Regions from separate parts of the Homo sapiens genome. Here region 1 is linked to region 2. A link means that fine-mapping ties the variant in region 2 to the expression of a gene that starts in the linked region. Tissue or cell type: whole blood. Region 2 holds a variant in brackets; the other region holds the start of a gene. All regions are shown on one strand. Distances are between the middles of the regions.

Region 1 (10,824 bases), 36 kb after region 2:
AAAAAAATTAGCTGGGGGGTGGTGCACCTGCAGTCCCAGCTACTTGGGAGGCTGAAGTGGGAGGATCACTTGAGCCTGGGAAATGACCTTGTCTTGAAAAAACAAGTTTTCCAAGAAGCTACAATTGATACAGAATGCTTCTGCTAGATAAAGCCACTGGTCCTAGTGAAAACAGAATGCATTTGTTCTCTAGTATCAATTTCCTTTCTAGAGCAATGTGAGATGACAGAAGCAACACCTCCTACACAAACCTCCCAATTTTTAAGTTTCATTGTAGCAGATGAAACAACAGATTTTCTATGCTCCGTCCCCAAATTTGAGGGCAGGAGGCCAAATATTTCCTCCCCAGAGTCAATTTTCTTATGATTCACCAATGTCAAGGTTTGAGAATCAGCACAATTGAGTGTAAGATATTACAGTCTGGCAAGGCATGTTGCCAAATGTCTTAATTTCAAATAGCATGTGGAGAAAGTGCTGAATGTGTGTGAATCCAAGTGACCTTGGTACCTTATGAGCACTGTGTCCGTTAAGCCCAAGAATGTTATTTAAATCCACATATAGGTCAGTCAGCATAAAAAACTACCTACACAGGTAACAATCTACATACATCTCTAACCCAAGCCAAGGAAACAGGTGAGACTATAGACACACATATACAAATATATTTCGATATAACCCTTCAGCATTCTTAGAGAAAGTATCATCTCCTCAATGTTATCTTTTTATGCAAAGAGTAATACATTTCATTTTACATGCACTGACAAATTTAAATATGTATGGTATTACATAATGCAGTAATGACCGAGAAAAAACATTATAAAACTAGCTAAGGAATTAAAGCTAGTACCTTGAACACATCTGAAGTGGCTATTTATAGGAATGATATCTTGAACATGCTGTTCCTTCTCATGCAACTGGATTATTAACCTAGGAAACAGAAGAACGCATCAAAGAACAGCCACTGAAAAACTCATTTAGCAAAAAAATACTTCACTGTCCTGTTATACAAATCTAGTCTGTATTTACTAGACTTGCTGCATCTAGTTCCCTGGATCTGAGCATCATGACAGCTAGATATTGCTCTAGGCCTAAAAGGATGCTAGTGGTGATGAACATCTGATTACCCACACTGTTCTCTAGGCCATATATCCTAAAAACAGTGTACAAGCTTAAGAGCATGAATTACAGAGTATATAGCTTCAGAGTATGCATACCAGAGTGAAGAACTGACAGCTAGATGTGAAGTCCATGAGTGCAGGGACCACAGCTATCTTTACACCACGGAATTTCTAGTACCTAGCACAAAGCCTGGCACACAGGAGTTGCTCGTGTGTGTGGAATCAATGAATTAGAAAATTCATAAATTAACCTTCCAATTATATTCCCATGGCTTTTTACCAAAGAATGGATCTGTCTCTTCAAACAAGCATTCAGGTTCATGGAGGAGTAAGAGGGGGTGCTCAGCCAGCTGGATTGGTCAAAATATCAGTGACCAACAAGGTGGCAGATATCACAACTGGATTGCCTTCAAATCCCTTGTTTCTTCTCTGGTTTCCAAGTTTACGCTGGTATTTCTACATAAACATGAGTAAACCTGACTCCCCAGATGAAATCCATACTTCTAAATCCATACGTACTCCTGAAATATTAATTTTTCATTTATTATTTATCCTTAGTGGTCCAGAATCAAGGTACGACCTACTGGTAAACAGCCATTCTGAACGTCAACTAGCATTCTCAAAGTCAAGCACTCTTCAAGTATTGTTTTTAGTTTTTTGTCAGGAACACTCTGTTTCTTTCCGAGTTTCATCTCAAATATCACCTCCTCCATGAAACTGTCCTCAGTACCCCCAAGCAGAACCAGCAGCCTTATCGCCTTTGTTTGCCCCTCTAATAGAACACTTACACACTCCATTATGGTTATATTTATTTCCCCTCACTGATTTCAGCTCCTTGAAAGCAAAGACCAGATCATATTCAGTTTTGTCTGCAGCCTAATAGATGCTCAACAAATACTGGCTGAATAAATTAACTAGCTTAATTAAGCTATAAGCAGCGGTGAATTTTTCAATGAAACTGTCCAACTTCTGACATTAAAATGTCATTGTTTTGAAGGGTTTGATTTCTATTTTGTTGTCTTTTGGGGGTGCTTGTTGCTTTTGCTTTTTGCATTTTCAAATGTGTTAACTTTGAAGAGGATAACCTGGGATAGGATAAGTAATTACTTAGATAGAACTAAGGGAAATAAAAGTATTAATGCTGTTTTTCTGCTGTGATCCTTCTTGCCTAATTTGCAGGGGTTTGTACTCTAAGGTGATTACAGGAATATGGGGCAGGCCCCTTTCCATCTGGAAAGTTCATGAGTTGAGTGGAGAGTCCTATAAACCCAGATGGAAACCAGAAACCAGATAAAAGGCTGAGAAATCAAGGGTTAAGGAGGAAGAGCTTACTTTGAGGAAGATAAACACAAACCACTAAAATCTCAAAATACATAAACAAGAAATGGTGTTGAACATTAGCATTAAAGCTTCATCTGGACAGTACTGTTAAAAACTATTACAAAACAAATAAACTGAGAATTTAAGTGAATTTCACCAACATTTATTGAGTATTTACTACGTGTTACCCACTAAATTACAATAAAAGAGTAGGGCTAAGAATAAGCATAAAAATTCTGAGTGTAATTATTCATTTCAGAATATAAAGATTAGAAATAATTGGTATACAGCAAAACAATGGAATTCAGAATTTGGTAGTTGTCAAACAGAAAAGAGTGACAAATCCTGAATGCCAACTCTGCCTTATCCCTAGGAAACACTTTGATTTGTTCAAGGAAGGTTAAAGGTCAAACAGGTTTTGTCATAATCTATTATCCTTGAAAAATATGAATCTTAAGTGTTTGATTCCCTGTTTCCAAAAAAACCCTGATTTTTAATTGTAATTTTGGTCAAGCAAATTTCCTATGGTTGACAGTAGGAACCACAGACCTAAAGATTTAAGTCAGGCTTCAAGTTCTAGGATAAAAAAGCCAAAAGTAAAAAGTTCTGGACACTCGAGTCAGAAAAGACACCAGAGAGACAAGAATATGAGGATTACAGATGGTATTATGGTATTAGGTGTCTCCAGCAAATGCTTTCAAGAGAAACTTCTCAGTGTAATTCTGAGACATGTTACATAGGATCAGATCTCAGGTATTCTACTCCCTAATTGCAAACAAGTGACTTAACCTGTCTGTGCTTCAATTTCTGTATCTATAAAAGGGGGATGATGATATTACTATCTTATAGTAACCCTCACATGTGGATTAAATGAACTAACTAATGAAAAGGGCTTAGAACAGTACCTGGCACATAAGCAGCCATTGAATGTTAGTTATATAGCAACAACTATATTAGTTGTTAGTTATATGTTAGTTTATATATAAACTATAGTTTATATGTATTTAAAACTATAGTTTATATATATTTAAAACTATTTACATAGTTTATATATAAACTGCTAATATAGCAACAACTATATTAGTTGTTAGTTATATAGTTGTTATATAGTGTTACCTATATATTAATGTTAGTTATATAGCAGCCCCATACCCCCACATATACCCCCAACTATACCCCCATAACTTACACAGAATTGGAACACACGACTTCCTTATTAGCTCAACAGAGTTCCAAATCTACTAATCCGAGGGACTAGATTCTGGGCTGTGGTCATCTCAACAATGTAGCTACTCTATTCAATCTTCATGATTTTGTTTTTACATTAGAGGAAACCAAGGCACACAAGTTTTACTGGTTTGCCCAAGGGTCACCTCTCTGTAACCCACTCTAGCCTTTGGAAATGTTAGTGGTGTTCCACTTTTCTGCTGAATTTTGTTTTATTAAATTCTGAATTTAGTTTAGTTTCATTAAACTAGTCTTCCAGGGTTTGATGAAATCCGGGTTTGATGAACTTCCCAGTAGAGCTGACTAAGCAGGACCTATGAAAGAGCTACTTCACAGAATTAGCTGACATCCAGTTAGAGTGGCACCAATAGTCTCAGAGAAGAGCAGGTTGGGCCAGTGGGAATTTCTTCCGTGTAAATCTGACAGCATAGATACAGAGGATCTAAAAGTGGGGACTGAGAAAATTGGTTTTAGGCAGAAGCCAATGTTGGGAGATGGCAAGATTTAAGTGAACAATTTTTAAACTGGGAAGGAATATGATGTCAAGAAGCCAATGAATATCCAAGTGAGGTGTCTTGGGCACACAGGGATAGGGGCCTATGATACGTAATGGTCACCATGGATATTTTTGAGATAAGATATTAGTGACAATAGAGTGAGGTTAGCAGCTATGGTGATAGCTTATCAAAATAATCTTTTGATCAATCAGTCAACAGTATTTACGGAGCTCCTATGGCAGAGAGGAAGGTGACACACTGATAAAATACTGTCATTTCTATCTCTACACATTTCATTACCTTTTCTTTCTAACAGTAAAGTCAGTAAGTGAGGCAGTTTCTGGCCTACACTAAACCATTACTGAATTAATGAATATGCCTTCAACCCAGTGGGATAAGGGGACGGGGAGACTGGAGAAACCAGCTGAATAGGGTTAAGACAAGTCTGTAACGTTAACAATGAAGCATTTCCATAGCACTTTTACTTTTTGGAAGCCACTCTCGCATTTATTTTTCCCCCAGTTATAATTCCAAAGGCTGTAAGGTAAGGCAGTTAATGGTTTTATTAAACTGAAGAGTTAACTTTGGCCCAGAAAGCTTTATTGACTTGCCCAACGTTACACAACACATGTCAGTTGCAGGGGCAGGAACTAAGAACCCAGGCTTCCTGCTTCCCCGCCCATTCAGTCCTTCCACTGAGCCACACTGCCAAGCACAATCCAGAGGCTTGGAAGTTGGGGACAAAGCCCCGAGGTTAGAGAGCACTGGCACTTCACACCTGGACCTGAACCTGTTGCCCGCGTGGCTTCAGTAGGAGGACAGTGGGTGACCCGTCGCGGTTTGGGGTTGGGAGGTAATGGCAGGCTCCCCTCCTCTGTGGGAATCAGGTGGTTACTTACTCATATTGCCCGTTCCTCTGGGCTAGGGTCAGGGCGCAGGGCTCCCGGAGAGGACCCTTCATCTCCATACCCTCGACAGTATGCGGGCGCTAGTCAAGGGTCTCCTTCGGAAGCGCGGTGGGGAGGAGTGGTGCACTGCGGGGCGAAGGGGGTCTTCCACCCCCCCCCCACCGCCGCCCTCCCCCGCCCCGCCCCGCCCTGCTTCGTCTCCCGCGCCGGCCCCCTCCCCCTCTCTGCTCGGCCTCTGGGCCACCCGGTTGCCCCGCCCCACCGTGTTCCGCAGGGCCCCCGACCCCCACCCCCGGCCCTGCGCGGCCTCCCCTCTCCCTTCTCTCCGGCGGATACGGCAAGCGGCTGGGCTCCGACCGGGAGCGGCGGCTCCATCCAGGCGGCCTCCGGGCTCAGCAGGACAGCGGACTGCGGGCCGATCCGACGACACTGGCTCCCGCGTCCCCACACCCACCCACCTCGGCTGCGTGTCGTTTGAGGAACAGCTCCGCGCCGGGCGCCGGGCGCCGGGAGCCGGGAGCGGGGAGCTGGGAGCTGAGAATCTGACCCAAGAGAGAGCGGCGCCTCGCGCCCCCGCCAGTTTTCCAGGCCGCCGCAGATTCCGTCCCCTGCGGTCAAACTGCGGAACTGCAGCGAGAGACCTGACGGACTGGGGGCGTCTCTACCAGGTCCAGCAAGGAATGGGTTTTAAATGCCACCTGTGACATCAAAATTGTTCTGAGGACTTTGAAGGCCACAGAAACAAAACACAGTCATACCTATGGGAGATCTCAAACCTGTTGTGTCAATACGACCCACATCATTCAGTAAAAAAATACATATATATATATATATATATTTCTTAAGGTTATAATGTCCCGTGTTGGTTATCCTACCATTTCCTTTCCTCTTCTTTCTTCCACGCCCTAAATCGGAGAATTCCCCAAAGCCCAGACCTTTGCTCCTCCTCTGCGTCCCCTCCAGTTCACCTCTAACTAGACAATGTCCAAATATATATCCCTGGCCCAGACCTCTTACCTAATAGAGTCCATTGTTAACACATCACTGCGTCACAAAACTAACTCATTATCATTTCACTGGAAAGCCATATATCGTCTTCCCCCTCCTCATCTCTATATCCAATCAGTCAACACACCCTGTTAATATTTTACGTGGAATTACTTTTAGATTCCTTATTTTCTCTCCATTCACACTGCCATAACTTTATTGTAAGCCCTTGTGATAGCCTATCTGGGTTATTGCACTTTTCTTTAAATAAATCCTGTTGGGTTTACTCTTTCCTTTGACATGTTTACTCTGTTGACAGCCATAAAAATATTTTTCCCAAAGTAATTTTTCGATCGTGTTATTCATTTGCTCCAGAATCTATAATACACTAGATATCAAGAGTGACTGTAAATCTGTAGTAATTAAAAGTATGCTGTGGAGATAGACAATCAATGAAACACAATATAAACCCCTCAAACAGACCACACATATACGGAAGGTTGATATGCAGCGTGTGGGACATTTCAAATCAGTGGGGAAAGAATGGATTATCCACTAAGTGGTACTAGGACTACTGCTTATCCATATGGAAAATTATAAAAATTAGACCCCTACCTCAAACCATGGAAGAAAAATCAGTTCCAGGTGGATTAAAGATCTAAATGTGAAAAGCAAAACTTTATAACTTTCAGAAAAAAAAATTGAGTATGAGCTTGGAATATGGAATGAGAATAAGACATTTAGCTACATGAAATTTCAAAATGTATGTACTTTAAGACAATATAAACAAGTTAAAAGACAAACTGGCCTGCACAGTGGCTCATGCCTGTAATCCCAGCACTTTGGGAGGCCGAGGTGGTAGGATCACTTGAGCCCAGGAGTTCAAGACCAGCCTGGGAAACGTGGCAAAACCCTGTCTCTACAAAAACTATAAAAATTAGCTGGATGTGGTGGCAAGTGCTTGCAGTCCCAGCTACTCAGGAGGCTGAGGTGGGAGCATCCCCTTGAGCCAGCGAGGTCACATCTACAGTGAGCTGTGATGGCGCCACTGCACTCCAGCCTGGGTGACAGAGCAAGACCTTGTCTCAAAAAAAAAAAAAAAAAAAAAAGACAAGCTGTCATCACCTTTCGGACATCTCCCACCATTTCCCACCACTCTCCCTAACTAGCTTTGCTTAGTCACACTGACTCCTTGTTGTTGCTAGGACTTGCCAGGCACACTCTTACCTCAGGGCCTTTACACTTGCTGTTCACTCTGCATGCACTCTCACCTCCTTCAGGTCTTTGCTCAAATGTCACTTTCTCACTGAAGCCTTCCTAGACCACTTTATTGAAAATTGTAATTCAACAATCCCCTTCTCCATCACCACACATACATGTTCCCTATCCCTCTTCCCTGCTTATGTATCACTATCTACCACTTCTGTTTTATTTATCAATATTATTGGTCATTTACCTTCACCCGCTAGAATGTTGAGTTCCATGAGTGCAAGGATTTTGTCTGTTTTGATCATAGCTGCATTCTCAGTGCCTAGAACCATTCTTGGAGCCAAGTAGGTGCTAGAAAAATATTGATTAAATGAATGAATGACTTGGTATCCAGGATATATAAGAACTCCTATAAATAAGAAAGAAACCTAATAGAAAAATTGACAAAATATCTGAGTAAGTAATTCATAGTCAAGGAAACCCAGATGGCCAATAAAGACATGAAAAGATGCCTAACTTTATTACTATTCAGGGAAATTGAAAAGTAAAACCACGAGATACCATTTCACAACCATCGGTTTTGTGAAAATTTAAAAAGTCAGACAACCCCAAGTGTTGTTGAAGTTCTAGCAGTGGAACTCTGATTTACGGCTAGAAGGAGTTTAAGTTGGTAGAACTGCTATGAAGAACAATTTGACGATGTCTAATAAAGGCAATACCCCTCAATCTAGAAATTCTATTTCTAGATATAGACACTGGCAAAACTCTACCTTTTATATGCACAAAGAGACATATAAAAGAATGTTCATTGCAGTATTATTTGTAATCTCAAAAATGGAAGCCAAGTAAATGTCAGCAGGTGAATGAATAAATAATGGTGTTCTCGATGAATGAATTTGAGCTATGGGTAGTAACAGCTAAATTTCAAAAATATAATGTTGAGTGAAAAGCAAATTGCAAAACATGTACAGTATACTGTGTATATAAAGTCTGAAAATATCATCTATTGCTTATGGCTACATAGATGAGTAGTACTGTAATAGTATATAAAACATGAAAGGGCATGATCACCAAATTTAAGAGAGGGAGAGGATTGACACTCGGGGGAGGCATACAGAGAATATCAAATATATCTAATATTTATTTCTCAAAACAGAATCTGAAAAGTGATGTTGCAAGATTTGATAGAACTGGGTGGTGGGTACATATATTGGTTCTGTTATTCCATGTACTTTCCTGCACTGAAAATCATTTGCAGTCAATGAAAACGAAAGATAAAGAAGGAATATGCAGGGGAGGTTAGCAGTATCAAATGCTGAAAATAGGACAAGAAAATGAGGGCCAAAGAGACTTTCTTTGGACGTGTCAAGGAGTTCACTGGAGACCAATAATTGTTTGGTTTCAATAAGTGGTGAGGATAGAAACAAGATTATGGGGAATTGAGGAGGAACTGTATTGTGAGAAAACGGAGACAAGAGACCACAGATTGAAGAGGTTTGGAAATAAAAAGGAACGAAGTACAATTTTAATTAAATTAGTTAGAAGGGTCAAACAGAGGTTGTTGACAAAGCCTGAAGCCACTTTAAAGCAAAGAGGAAGGAACCAACAAAGAGGGGGCCTTTTTTTTTTTTTTTTTTTTGAGACGGAGTCTCGCTCTGTCGCCCAGGTCGGACTGCGGACTGCAGTAGCGCAATCTCGGCTCACTGCAAGCTCCACTTCCTGGGTTCACGCCATTCTCCTGCCTCAGCCTCCCGAGTAGCTGGGACTACAGGCGCCCGCCACCGCGCCCGGCTAATTTTTTGTATTTTTAGTAGAGACGGGGTTTCACCTTGTTAGCCAGGATGGTCTCGATCTCCTGACCTCATGATCCACCCGCCTCGGCCTCCCAAAGTGCTGGGATTACAGGCGTGAGCCACCGCGCCCGGCCAGAGGGGGCCTTTTAAGATGCTAGAAGAGAGAGGCAGTAAGGTTGCAAGCAAAATCCCTCAGTAATTGAGAGGGACAAAGATCCAAGATGTAGATGGCGGAATCGGCCTTAGGGAAAAGGCGAGATACTTCTTCCTCCAACTTTACAGTATCCTCAGCACCTAAACAGTGCATTGCACATAGTGGGCACTCAATAAATATTTGTTAAGTGAAGAATAAGAGGTTGTGTGGAAATTAAAATATATTGAGGTAAGGACACTAAAAACTGAGGTCTCTCACAGGGGAAATGATGGTTGCATATAAGTGGCTTCCAATGCAAAGAGTTAAAAGACAATTGAATAAAATTCAAATAAATGAAACTCTGGCTTCAAGAAAACATGAATCTCACCACCTTTACCACCACCATCTGCACATGCGTGCGTGTACACACATACACAAACACACACAAATTCAGTGGGTGCTCAGTGCCTGTCTTTTATCTATTAGGCAACTATCACTAAGTGTCTAGAACTTACAGGCTTTTCAGAAACAAAATTAAAAAAAACAGGATCTTTAAAAAAGACTAGAGCCGAGCACAGTGGTTCACAACTACAATCCCAGCACTTTGGGAGGCCAAAGCAGAAGGACCATTTGAAGTTTGAGATCAGCCTGGGCAATCTAACGAGACCCCCATCTCTACAAAAATAAAATAAAATAAAATTAGCTGGGCATGGTGGTATGTGCCTACAGTCCCAGTTACTCGGGAGGCTGAGGCAGGAGGATCACTTGAGCCCAGGAGTTCAAGGCTGCAGTGAGCTATGATTGTGCCACAGCACTCCAGCCTGGGCGACAGAAGGAGACTCTGTCTCTAAAAAAATTTGTTTTTAAGTAAAGGCTACAAAATACTAAAATGACAAATTCAAAAATAATAATTAAATGGCATACAAAATAGAACAGTATATCAAGTTCATTAACAGTTAAATTTATTATGCATTTAAAAACCCATTATATTTGAAGACGATTTTTAGGTTGGATCTTCTCACTTCCCAAGAATTCCCACGTACATGTAATTCTTATGGAGAAATCACAGCCATGTAAATTAAATTAGTTATGCACAGACAAATAATTTCAAAAGCAAAATTACCAAAGCATTTTCAAAAATTTATAGCAAAAATATAAATGTTTAATGCAGGATGTGGATGCATTTTAATATGTTTATTATGATGTTGGCTGAAGTCTCCACAAGTGACAGTGTTTAGGGCCTGCGAAGGCAAAAACAGGCCTGCCTAACATAGATGAGGCTGGGAAGGAAGATTTTGTATAGGTGAGTCAGCAGCCAGAGGCTGGAAGGCAGGCCAAGTGGAGGCATAAATGATTCATTTATTTTTAAATCCCCACTAGTTGAAAAGCCTCCCTTTTCATATACACAAATCCAGCATGGGTATGGCTTTCCATACAGAGCAACATAAAGAGTTCATTTTTATTTACATATTTCTGTTTTGCATTTCTATATTTCCACTTACACATTTCTATGTTATTTATGTCTATTTTCATTCCTTATAGAGTTTGGGGTGAGAAAAGCTCATTACTTGGGGCCACAGCCTATCACCTATACTCTTGGTGAAATGGCGACAGGCACAGCAAGCAGGAAAA
Region 2 (10,824 bases):
ATATATATATAATTTCTAAGTATATATATTAAAGGATATATATATATAATAAAAGGTATATACATACACTTACAAATGAATGAATACAAGAGAAAATTCTGAAAGAAGAATCAAAAGGACTTTGATTAAATACTGATGGAGGGACAAGAGATTTACTTCTCTAGGTACAGGCACAAAGAAACAACATAGAAATTACATTGAATTCAACCTTGGTCTCAATTTTGAAAACAGAAGCATCACTTAACCTTTATTAGTAAACAGCTTACTCCTATAATAATCCTAAGGTTTCTACTATGAATCACTTAGTTCAACCAATTTTAAAGAGCAGAGATGCCCATTCTCTGCAAAAGGCTATATATGGATTACATTTAAAAAGAGAACTTAGTTCAGGATTTCCCCAGTGGGACAACACTGGCACATAGCAAATGCAATGCAAATCATTCTTTACCCCAACATTCACCCTCAGAAGACTGTTCCCCGTGGTAAATGCAGCTAAAATAAAAGAGTCAATTAGAGGTGGAAGATGCAAATTTAAAAATAAAAAGCATAGCCGGGCACGGTGGCTCACGCCTGTAATCCCAGCACCTTGGGAAGCTGAGGCGGGTGGATCACCTGAGGTCAGGTGTTCAAGACCAGCCTGGCCAACACAGTAAAACCCCATCTCTACTAAAAAGGCAAAAATTAGCCAGGCGTGGTGGCGCGCGCCTGTAGTCCCAGTTACTCGGGAGGCTGAGGCAGGAGAGTCACTTGAACTGGGAGATGGAGGTTGCAGTGAGCCAAGATTGTGCCACTGCACTACAGCCTGGCCGACAGGGTAAGACTCCATCTCAAAAATAAATAAATAAATAGCCGAAAACTGAATGGAAAATGAAGTTCTAAAAAGGATTAGTTCATATGAAATAGAGAAGAAATACAAGCCATATACTTAACAGAGTAAGAAATGGATGGTTAGATTAGTAAGACAAAGTAAAAACATAGTGAAAAAAACACTACGGACAAATTAACAAGTTATTCCTGTTATTTCAAACTTTTGATATTGTTCTCCCAACAGATATGTCCCCAAGCAAATATAGTTTCTCTACCCATCCCTCAACTTTTTTCATCTCCGTATTTACAACTTAGCCACATCTGGCAAGTTCAAGTCTTGTCTCCTTTCAATTAGTCCATTCTACAAGTAACACCAGAATGTTCTTCCAACTATATCAATTTGCAACCTCATACTAATCAGCAAACCCTTCTGATGGTTCTAGATACCCTCTGGCTCATGCATAAACTTATCTATTGACTTCAAGACTCTCTACCACCTGCCCCATTCTCCCTAACCAGCTTCATACATTCTTATCCTTGATCTTCACTTGTCCCAGGGAAATCTTACAGTTTTTCATACATGGTCTTTTCACTTTCACCTTCTACCCTTTATTCAAGATGTCCTCTAAGCCTGGAAGAGCCTGCTCACCCACTATATTAATAAGTGTTTCTTAAGTACTTGGACTTGACTGAAAATACTTCTATAACTAACTCCAAATCACCTTCCTAGTTCACTTTATTCTTATGTGCTAAACTTATTTCTCAGTCATGTTAATGTTACATGTATCAAATATTCATTAAAATGAAAACAGGCTGATTCTGATTTCTATAGGGATTAGCTGGTCAGTCAATAAGCTTTTATAGCATATAAGGGCTTGAATAAACAACATAGGAAAGGAACCTATTGTTAATACAAACTACAACCTTCATAGCAGTCACTTTAAACGACTTTCCAAAATACTGACTTACCAAGCACACCAGACATTAGCCAGTAAAGGTGGTTAATGTTCAGATTATCTTTAACCAAACTCCCTATTAACCATGACTTAAAGTTTAGCCATATTTTATGTGCAAATATACTTTCATCACCACTAAATTATGGGAACTCACATAAACTCCATAATACTTTGTATCCAGTGTGTAATGAATCAATATTGAGGATTATTTGCTACTTAATATTCTAGTTAATATAACAGAAAAATCTATCTTAATTCTGAAAAACAATAAAGATGATTACAAATGGTAGATTTTCATCCGTTTCCCACTTGTGCTAATCTCAACTATTCTAGGAGTGGCAAAGTCACTATTATGAAAAGGGCTGGAAGGATGAAAAATAATTATGTCAGTTATTTCATTCTGCATTTGGTGGGAAGATGGTGTGGCATAAGGATCTTTCTAAAACAGTGCATAAGGATCTTTCTAAAACAGTACATAGAGAGACAACACATACATTGAACTCGTTTCTGGCTTTACCAAAATTTTAGAGCAAATAATACAACAGAGGGCAGGTACCATTATTAACAGCATCATCTCATGAGATTTGAAATACGATATTGGGTCTTGGGGAAAAAAAACATGAATACTATACCTGAGGAATCATTTCAGAAGGTCAAAATCAAGTCACAACAGAGTGAGAAGGTATTAAAGATGGGATACTAATTGTTTTTAGATTTCTTGTTTACTGCTCCACAGTAATGCAGGTTGAGTATTCCCAATCCAGAAATCCAAAATGCTCCAAAACTCGAAACTTTTTGAGTACTGTCATGATGATCAAAGGAAATGCTCATTGAAGCATTTCAGATTTCCGATTTCCAGATTAGGGAAGCTGAACTGGTAAGTATATAATGCATATATTTGAAAATCTGAAAAAGATTGAAATCTGAAACACTTTTGGTCCCAAGCATTTTGGATAATGGATAATCAACCTGTATAGATAATTTCCTCATCAATGAGATACAGGAATTTAATAACACTGAAATGCAACAGACTGTGAAAAGAACCCTAAATCCTACAAAATAAAAGCTTTAAAAGAAAAATGATGTCCACACACATACAATTTAATAAAAACTCAGAAATTCTGTAATTAAAAATGATCAGGGTTCTATTATTTTAACCCTCAATCACTTGTGCACAAAAAGAAGGAAAAAGGCTTCCCAAAGAGCCATTCATTCCTCTAATGATTTTGGTTCCTTTCTGTTCATGGGCAAACATGGTAAAATTACCTGATAGTATACTTTACATAAAATAAAAACTTTATGAGGGTTGAGCCTCTTCTGGCCAATCCCAGAATATGAAAAACTGCAAAGTTTTTCATATTAATGGCTTTGCAGTTTTTCATATTAATGGCAAAGATATTCTAATATCTTCACTGACTCTGACTAAAAATAAGGGTAGGTTCCTGTTTACATGAAGGTGGAAGGAGAGAGTATAAATGGGATAAGTTTAAAAAAAAAAAAAACAAGAAGGAAACAACCAGAAAAATTTAGGAAATGGTTGACCCTTGACTGGACATTTGTACTGGACTCTTAAAAAAGTCAATGTCACTAAAGAAAGTAGGAACTGTACTACTCCAATAGAGACTTCAGAGACCTCACCAAATACTATATGAACCCAGATTGGATTTTGGTTTAAAAAAAGGTATAACAGAAATTCTTGGGACAACTGAAGAAATCTGAATATGGACCGAATGTTAAATGATACTATGGATTACTGTTAGTTTTCTTATACATAATAATGGTATTGTGCTTAAGTGTGCCCTTTTTGTTAAGAGATGCAGGCTGAAGTGTTCAGTGGTGAAGTGACATATTACCACTAAATTTTACATGACACAGCAAAAAACATCTGTGTGTATATATGTACAGAAGGCATGTGGGGGTGTGTTGTACTGTTCTTTCCATTTTTCTGCACATTTGACATTTTTCATAATAAAAAGCTGAAACAAAGAAAGCTGGGAAATAATGTCTGAGATGAAGGAAAGGGGGTAGGAGAAATAAGAAAAACAACTTCATCATCCAAAATGTATTCTAAAAGGTGAAATACTAAAATCTAAAAGACAGAAATATAATGTTAGGAGAAAAACAATTATCATGAAAAACAGCAGAACGGTAGGATATGAATTTCTGAAGAAAATGGTTCTCTCTCAAACAGAGGTAATATACTCAGTCATGAGGGCTCTGGGGAAATAAGTATAATTCCAAGAAAGAATGCCGGGGCTGGACTCAGTGTTTTAATCTGCTATCTGAGTCACAGCTAAAACAATTCCATGGCAACAGAACAGATCGGACTCAGACAAGCCAGCAGCCTGCCTGCTGGTCTAGACCTCCCTGCTAGATACAATCACTCGCTCTGGCTAGGCCTAAAGGATCCATGTGAATACTAATGGTAAGGATAACGTATGCTGTCACCTCACCTAATTTTCTTTGGTAAAAAAACCAAGAATATACTTTTGTAGCCCAAAGAGATTCTGCATACAATCCAACAATATTTTCATTTAGAAGGAAATTTCTTAATACAATGAACTTTATTACTAAATCAACTTATGTTACTGAAGATAGTAAGTACTTCCTTCATAAAAACATTAATATTATAGCTTGGCTTGAGGGAGAGGTGGGAAAATCAACCTCCTTTTCTTTCTTAAGCACATCACATTAAGTAAGTATCAAATTTCAATGTACATTATAAGCATCTGGAATGCGGATAAAATGCAGATCTGTAGGCTCCATATCCTGAGATTCTGATTCCATTGCCAGAAGTGAGGGTACCTGTAATAAGCACCCCCAGGGATTCTGATTCAGGTACTCCAGGGTTCCAGGATAGTTCTATGCTTCCATAAATAGCAAAGTTTTACTCTGATTAGATATAATGTGGTATTAGTGAGGAATACTAAACTGGGAGCCAGGAAATCTGGGTGCTAGATTTGTTACTAACTGATGGTATTTGACTCTGGGCACGTCAATGTCTCTGTGCCTCAGTTTTCTCATATGCTCAAATGAGGATAATTCTGCCTGCCCCACTTAGCATACCTCACGTACATGCTAATTTATACAAAAGTGACTTGAGAGTATGAAGAGCTTAACAAACAAGCATTATATCTTTGAGAGGGGAGTCTTTAATCTTATTTGGTGAGCTTAGTATTATGTATTGTACTCACAACAAGAGCCAACTGCAGATTAGTCCCCCCTCTTTCCCCTTAGGCTTAATCTAATCAAAACAGTGCTAAAGTAACATTCTTCTTTATCATTTGACATCCCCCGTGGCCAAAAGAAGACAGAAAGCACAAAGATAATGAGGACGTCACTTAAGTATTGTGAAAATTAAATGTAAAAGAGGTTTATGTCTTGGGACAGTTCTTACCAAGTCTATGAGTTTGGTAACAGGAACTTCTCGGATTGGTCTTTTCATACGGCACAGAGCCTCTAAGGATGTGCCAAAACAACTTGGGAGGTAATTTCCACTGATAGTCAAGAAGTAATCTTTGCCTCGATCCAGGTGAAGGACGAGAATATCTTCAATCTTATCTTCTCCCGAGTTCAGGATGGTTACAGAGTCTTTGCTGACATACACATCAAGAGAAATGTCCACTGTCTCATCTGAAATGTAAGAGATGATACATGGTAATAGGAAAACCTCCAGTGGGAAAGCAAAAAAGAGTATAAGAACCAACAGAAAA[G/A]TGTCCTCTAAAAAAATCATTAAGCAATGAGGGGGAAGAGACAGGACACACACCAGAGGTATCACCAATATGACAGTAAAGGTAAGAGACATGTGGTTAGAAAACAGAAAGTTAAACCAAGGGGATGGGAGTCATGACATCACCAGCAGAGACAATGGTAAAGGGAAAACTCACTTGGCTCCAAGTAGCCCTCAAAAGGTTCAGCCCGAAGCCATGGCTTGCAGTACTGGCTGTCATTAAGTTTAGGGATGAAAGAAAAATGGCAGGGAACCTGTCCATTGTTGCTGATCTGGAACTTCTCCTTTTGTAGTTGCCGAAACTTCACATTTTCAAACACAAACTGGGGAATAACAGACAGACACAAACATGCATCACTAGTAGGGGAAGTAAGTCAGTTGGATTATTCCATAGAGGATATGAGGAGTAAGGTAATTGTTAAGCAGGTGTGCAAATGCCATAGACATTCACCAACTGAACCAACTTCACAACATCCACTTGCATGTATTATTATACTCACACCAGCAGAGAAGGAGTTAGGTGGCTCTTGCTACTTCTCCAGGCTACTCTGATCATTCCTAGGATCCTAAGAGGGTAACCCAACCTTGGTTCAGAGTATTCATCCTGTGACCAAGTCCTGGTTTCTGAGATATAAATTAACTAGCAACTCTGAAATATTAAATAAGAGCATCTAACAGCGGAGGGCTTACTATGTGCCGGGTGCTGTTCTGAGAGCTTTGCATGTATTAACTCATGTAATCCTTACAACTACCCCTTAATCCAGGAAAGGAAACTGCGGCTCTGAGCGGGTAAGATACTTGCCTGAGGTCATACATCTACTAAACAGCCGTGCTACAACTGGAATGGAGGCAGTCTGACTCCAGCGACATGGGCTTAACCACGTTGCTATGTAGCCTTTTCTAAGTAGCAGTTTCTTCTGTGCTAACCACAGTGAGCAGTAGACAGGGAGATCATGTATTTTTGCTCACCTCCCTCCTGCTGAGTTCTAAGGAAGGAAGGAAGTCATTTTCCATTCTGTCCATGATGCGTACACTATCTTCAAAGACTTTCCGGTACCTTCGTTCATCCACAACCTTCACCTGAAAGAAAATGTATCCTCTTTTCAGTCTTATATCCTTCTAGCTCATCTCCCTTGGAGATTATCTAACAATTTAAAACTGGTCATTACAGTAACTATTTAAAATAAACTGTGGTGCAAACAACATCCTCAAACACTCTCTATATCTTGCTTCATCCACAGCTTGCACCTGAAAGAAAACAGATCCTTGCTTTAGTTTTATGTGTTCTCAACTTTTATACCTCCAAGAGTCTCTAACAATTTTTAAGGTCACTAAAGCAAACATAAATTGAACAAAGCATTATAGAAGCACACGCTTTAAGGTAAAGGTAAGATTAATTGGCTAACGTCCTGTAAAAGTTAAACCCCTACGTTAAGAAGCTTGGTAATAATAAATATTTGGGAAGAATATTTTCTTGCTTCATTGTTAAGTTATTTGGTAGTGGAAAAAATGTGATAATTGTGGTAAAAATGATTGCTTGCACTGTACAAAATGACAGTGTCAAAACACAGCAATTACTGTTTCTAACAATCATAACTTGGTGAGGTGGCAGCAAATATTATTAAAAAGCTTTTAACTCTATTAGATTCTATGTACAATACCAAGAAGTATAATATCACTGCTCAGATTACATAATAGCAGAGATATATTAATAAATGGAACCTACAGCCATTTTAGAAAATGGCTGAAACAAAATGTCCTAGACTAGAGTAAAACCATGACAACGTATAAACACATCTCCACTGATAAAAAAATTTTCCACCTGACACAGCACTTTCAGCTTCCTGATATAGCTGTGTTTTTTTAAATATTAAAACTTCATACAAACCAATGCCAAAATTAACATAACTAACAGATTTTAACTTGAGATATCGGTTTCTTTTTTAGACTAGGAAATTTCACAAAAATTCATGTCAAAAAAAATTGATACATGCAGCAAAGGTTCTAAAAAGATGTGGAAACAGATGCTGGTGAGGCTGTGGAGAAGTAGGAACGCTTTTACACTGTTGGTAGGAGTGTAAATTAGTTCAACCATTGTGCAAGACAGTGTGGCGATTCCTCAAGGATCTAGAACCAGAAATACCATTTGACCCAGCAATCCCATTACTGGGTATATACCCAAAAGAATATAAATCATTCTACTATAAAGACACATGCACACATATGTTTACTGCAGCACTACTTACAATAGCAAAGACATGGAACCAACCCAAATGCCCATTAATAATAAGACTTGATAAAGAAAATGTGGTAAATATACACCATGGAATACTATACAGCCATAAAAAGGAATGAGATCAGGCTGGGCACAGTGGCTCACACCTGTAATCCTAGCACTGCGGGAGGCCGAGGCAGGAGGATCACTAGAGGTCAGGAGTTCGAAACCACCCCAGCCAACACGGTGAAACTCTGTCTCTACTAAAAGTACAAAAAAAAAATTAGCCAGGCATGGTGGTGGGTGCCTGTAATCCCAGTCACTTGGGAGGCTGAGGCAGGAGAATCCCTTGAGCCCGGGAGGCGGAGGTTGAAGTGAGCCAAGATTGCACCACTGCACTCCAGCCTGGGCAACAGAGCAAGACTCCACCTCAAAAAATAAAAAAAGTCATGTCCTTTGCAGGGACATGGATGAAGCTGGAAGCCATCATCCTTAGCAAACTAACACAGGAACAGAAAACCAAGCACCGCATATTCTCACTTATAGGTGGGAGTTGAAGAATGAGAACACATGGACACAGGGAGGGGAACAACACACACCAGGCCACTCGGGGTAGTGGGGCGAGGGGAAGGAGAGCATTAAGGTTAAATAGCTAATGCACGTGGGGCTTAAAACCTAGATGATGGGTTGATAGGTGCAGCAAACCAACATGGCACACATACCTATGTAACAAGCCTATACGTTCTGCACTTGTATCCCACAACTTGAAGTGAAATAAAAATTTTTTAAAATGTTGAAAATAAGAACATCAAAGCTGAGTCAAGTATCTCAGACTGGGGAAGTTTTTCACATATTTGAACTGTAACTCTTAGAGAACCGAGGATCAAACAATCACTTTACCATCACCAGGGTCCATAGTATAGCATTAGTTTAAGATGAATTTTATACTTTTACAAAACTTTGCAACTTTTAATTTCCAAAAGTATTTTGCACATGTCTTTTTATTTTCACAACCTGGAAGGCTACCAAAGCAAGGAATATTTTTGTTCCGATAGTTGAGAACATTAAGATACAAAACAATCAACAAACTTGCTCACTGCTACAGTGAATACCAAAGGTGACATCTGGACTAGTTTAAGACTCTTTCCAATATACTAGATATGTGACAGAATCAACTTGAGTATGTCTTAAAAGCACAGCTGCCTGGGTCTACTAATCACAGCCTCTAGGGGTGAGGACACATGCATCCACACTTTTTTTAAAGCTCTCTAAGCAATTCTTACATCCACTGAAGTCTGAGAACCAATGCAACAGATCACAGTACCAAGTGCAGGGTTGGAACCCTATCCTAGCTCTATCTCAGCCAGCCCACAGAAAGTCTTCTGAAATTAATTGGCCACGGTGCACTTGGCTCCTTTGTTAACAGTCATTGGTGCCAATGGTGGTGAAAATATAGTGTGGTTTTTAAAGCCTCTAATCATAGCATGCCCAAGAATCCAAAACATGGGGTGATTACTCAATAAAATCAAACTTTTTCTCAGCGGGTTATCATGATCACAGCACTTAATGGCAAATCAAAGATAATGAGGAGGGGGGGAACCCCAAAGAATTTCACAACCTGACACATCCATTTTAGTAAAGGAAATTACTGACAAAATTAGGAATTTGAAAAAAAGTACAATGAGCTAGGTCTTTATGTAATAAGATGGGAGGTTCTCCAAGACACACTGCTGAGTTAAAAAAAAAAATCAAGTTGCAGACCAACACATACATATAAGACCGTTTATGATATAGAGACACACACAAATCAGTATTTTGTCTATGAGTGAACAAAAAAGCATATACAAAGGTCTAGAACTGCACTGTCCAGTACAATAGTGACTAGCCACATAGGGAATTTGAATTTAAATTACTTTAAATTAAATTAAATTAGAAGTTCAGTTCTCAGTTGCACTAGCCACACTTCAAGTACTCAATAGCCCCCTGCTGCTAGAAGCCACTGGACTGGACAGCACAGATACAGGACATTTCCATCATCACAGAAAGCTCTATTGGACAGCACTGGTCTAGAAAGATATAAACTCCTAAGGGTAGTGGCCTGGCTGGGGAATGGGGGTTTAGGCAAAGTTGGGAGTAGGAGACAGAACAGGGATTGAAGAACTTCTGCCTTATCTGTCAATTCTGCTTAAATTTCCTTTTAATTTTTTTAAAAGCACTTGTCATTGCTGTATAATTTAAAAATCATTAAAAACTCAAAAGGCATATCTTTATTAAAGATATACATAAATACACAGGAAGCCTGAAAAAAAATGTAAATATCCCACTAGAAGCTCTGCATTAATGTGTATGGAGTATTAAAAACATCCCAAGGTTGGCTGCGAGCGGTGGCTCATGCCTGTAATCTCAGCACTTTGGGAGGCTGAGGCGGGTGGACCACAAGGTCAGGAGATCGAGATCATCCTGGCTAACATGGTGAAACCCCGTCTCTACTAAAAATACAAAAAATTAGCTGGGCGGGAGGCTGAGGCAAGAGAATGGCGTGAACCCAGGAGGCGGAGCTTGCAGTGAGCCAAGATCGTGCCACTGCACTCCAACCTGGGTGACAGAGCGAGACTCTGTCTCAAAAAAAAAAAAAAAAAAACCAAAAAACAAAAAACAAAAACAAACAAAAAAATCTGAAGGTTTTGAAAAGAAATGTAAACAAAAAAGCCAGGCATACCTGATCTAACCAAAGAGGTTAGTGTTTGAGGAAAGATACCCTCTCAAAATGGATTAAGAGAATTCAAATGAAGAAAAAGGGGCAGCCTGCAAGTACAAACTAGAAATTAGATGGGCTAAAAGAAGTTATCTAAAGGTATATTTCATCAAGTTCTATAGAATTATAGAGGTATTGTGGGGTAGTAGAAAGAGCACAGAGTTGGGAGTTAAGCCAACTTAAGATTGGAATCTCAGCTCTCCTCCTAGTTGAATGCTCTTAAATAAGTTATTTCAACTTGCTGTTCTCCATCTGCTCATCTGTTAAATGGGAAATACAGTTGTCCCTTGAGATCTGTGGGGGATTGATTCTGGCATGGCCTGTGTATAATCAAATTCACGCATACTCAAGTCCCACAGTT

Evidence for each region. PIP is the estimated chance that this variant, and not a neighbour inherited with it, causes the effect. A credible set is the group of variants that fine-mapping cannot tell apart.
Region 1: OCRL starts here. The variant in region 2 is the best candidate, but not a certain one, in a credible set for the expression of OCRL in whole blood (TOPMed, PIP 0.90).

The regions. Positions count from the first base shown.
Region 1 is chrX:129,535,061-129,545,884 of GRCh38, reverse strand. OCRL (OCRL inositol polyphosphate-5-phosphatase) reads right to left here and starts at 5,626. Exons shown (of 24, transcript NM_000276.4): 1 at 5,407-5,626; 2 at 5,062-5,141; 3 at 848-927. The coding sequence starts at 5,445. RefSeq lists silencers at 5,413-5,612, 5,723-5,782 and an enhancer at 5,499-5,793.
Region 2 is chrX:129,570,889-129,581,712 of GRCh38, reverse strand. OCRL (OCRL inositol polyphosphate-5-phosphatase) reads right to left here. Exons shown (of 24, transcript NM_000276.4): 16 at 6,463-6,573; 17 at 5,651-5,816; 18 at 5,161-5,396. Among named protein-coding and RNA genes, the nearest start is that of OCRL, 36 kb to the right of the region's middle. The variant G/A (reference allele first, on the strand shown) is at 5,477.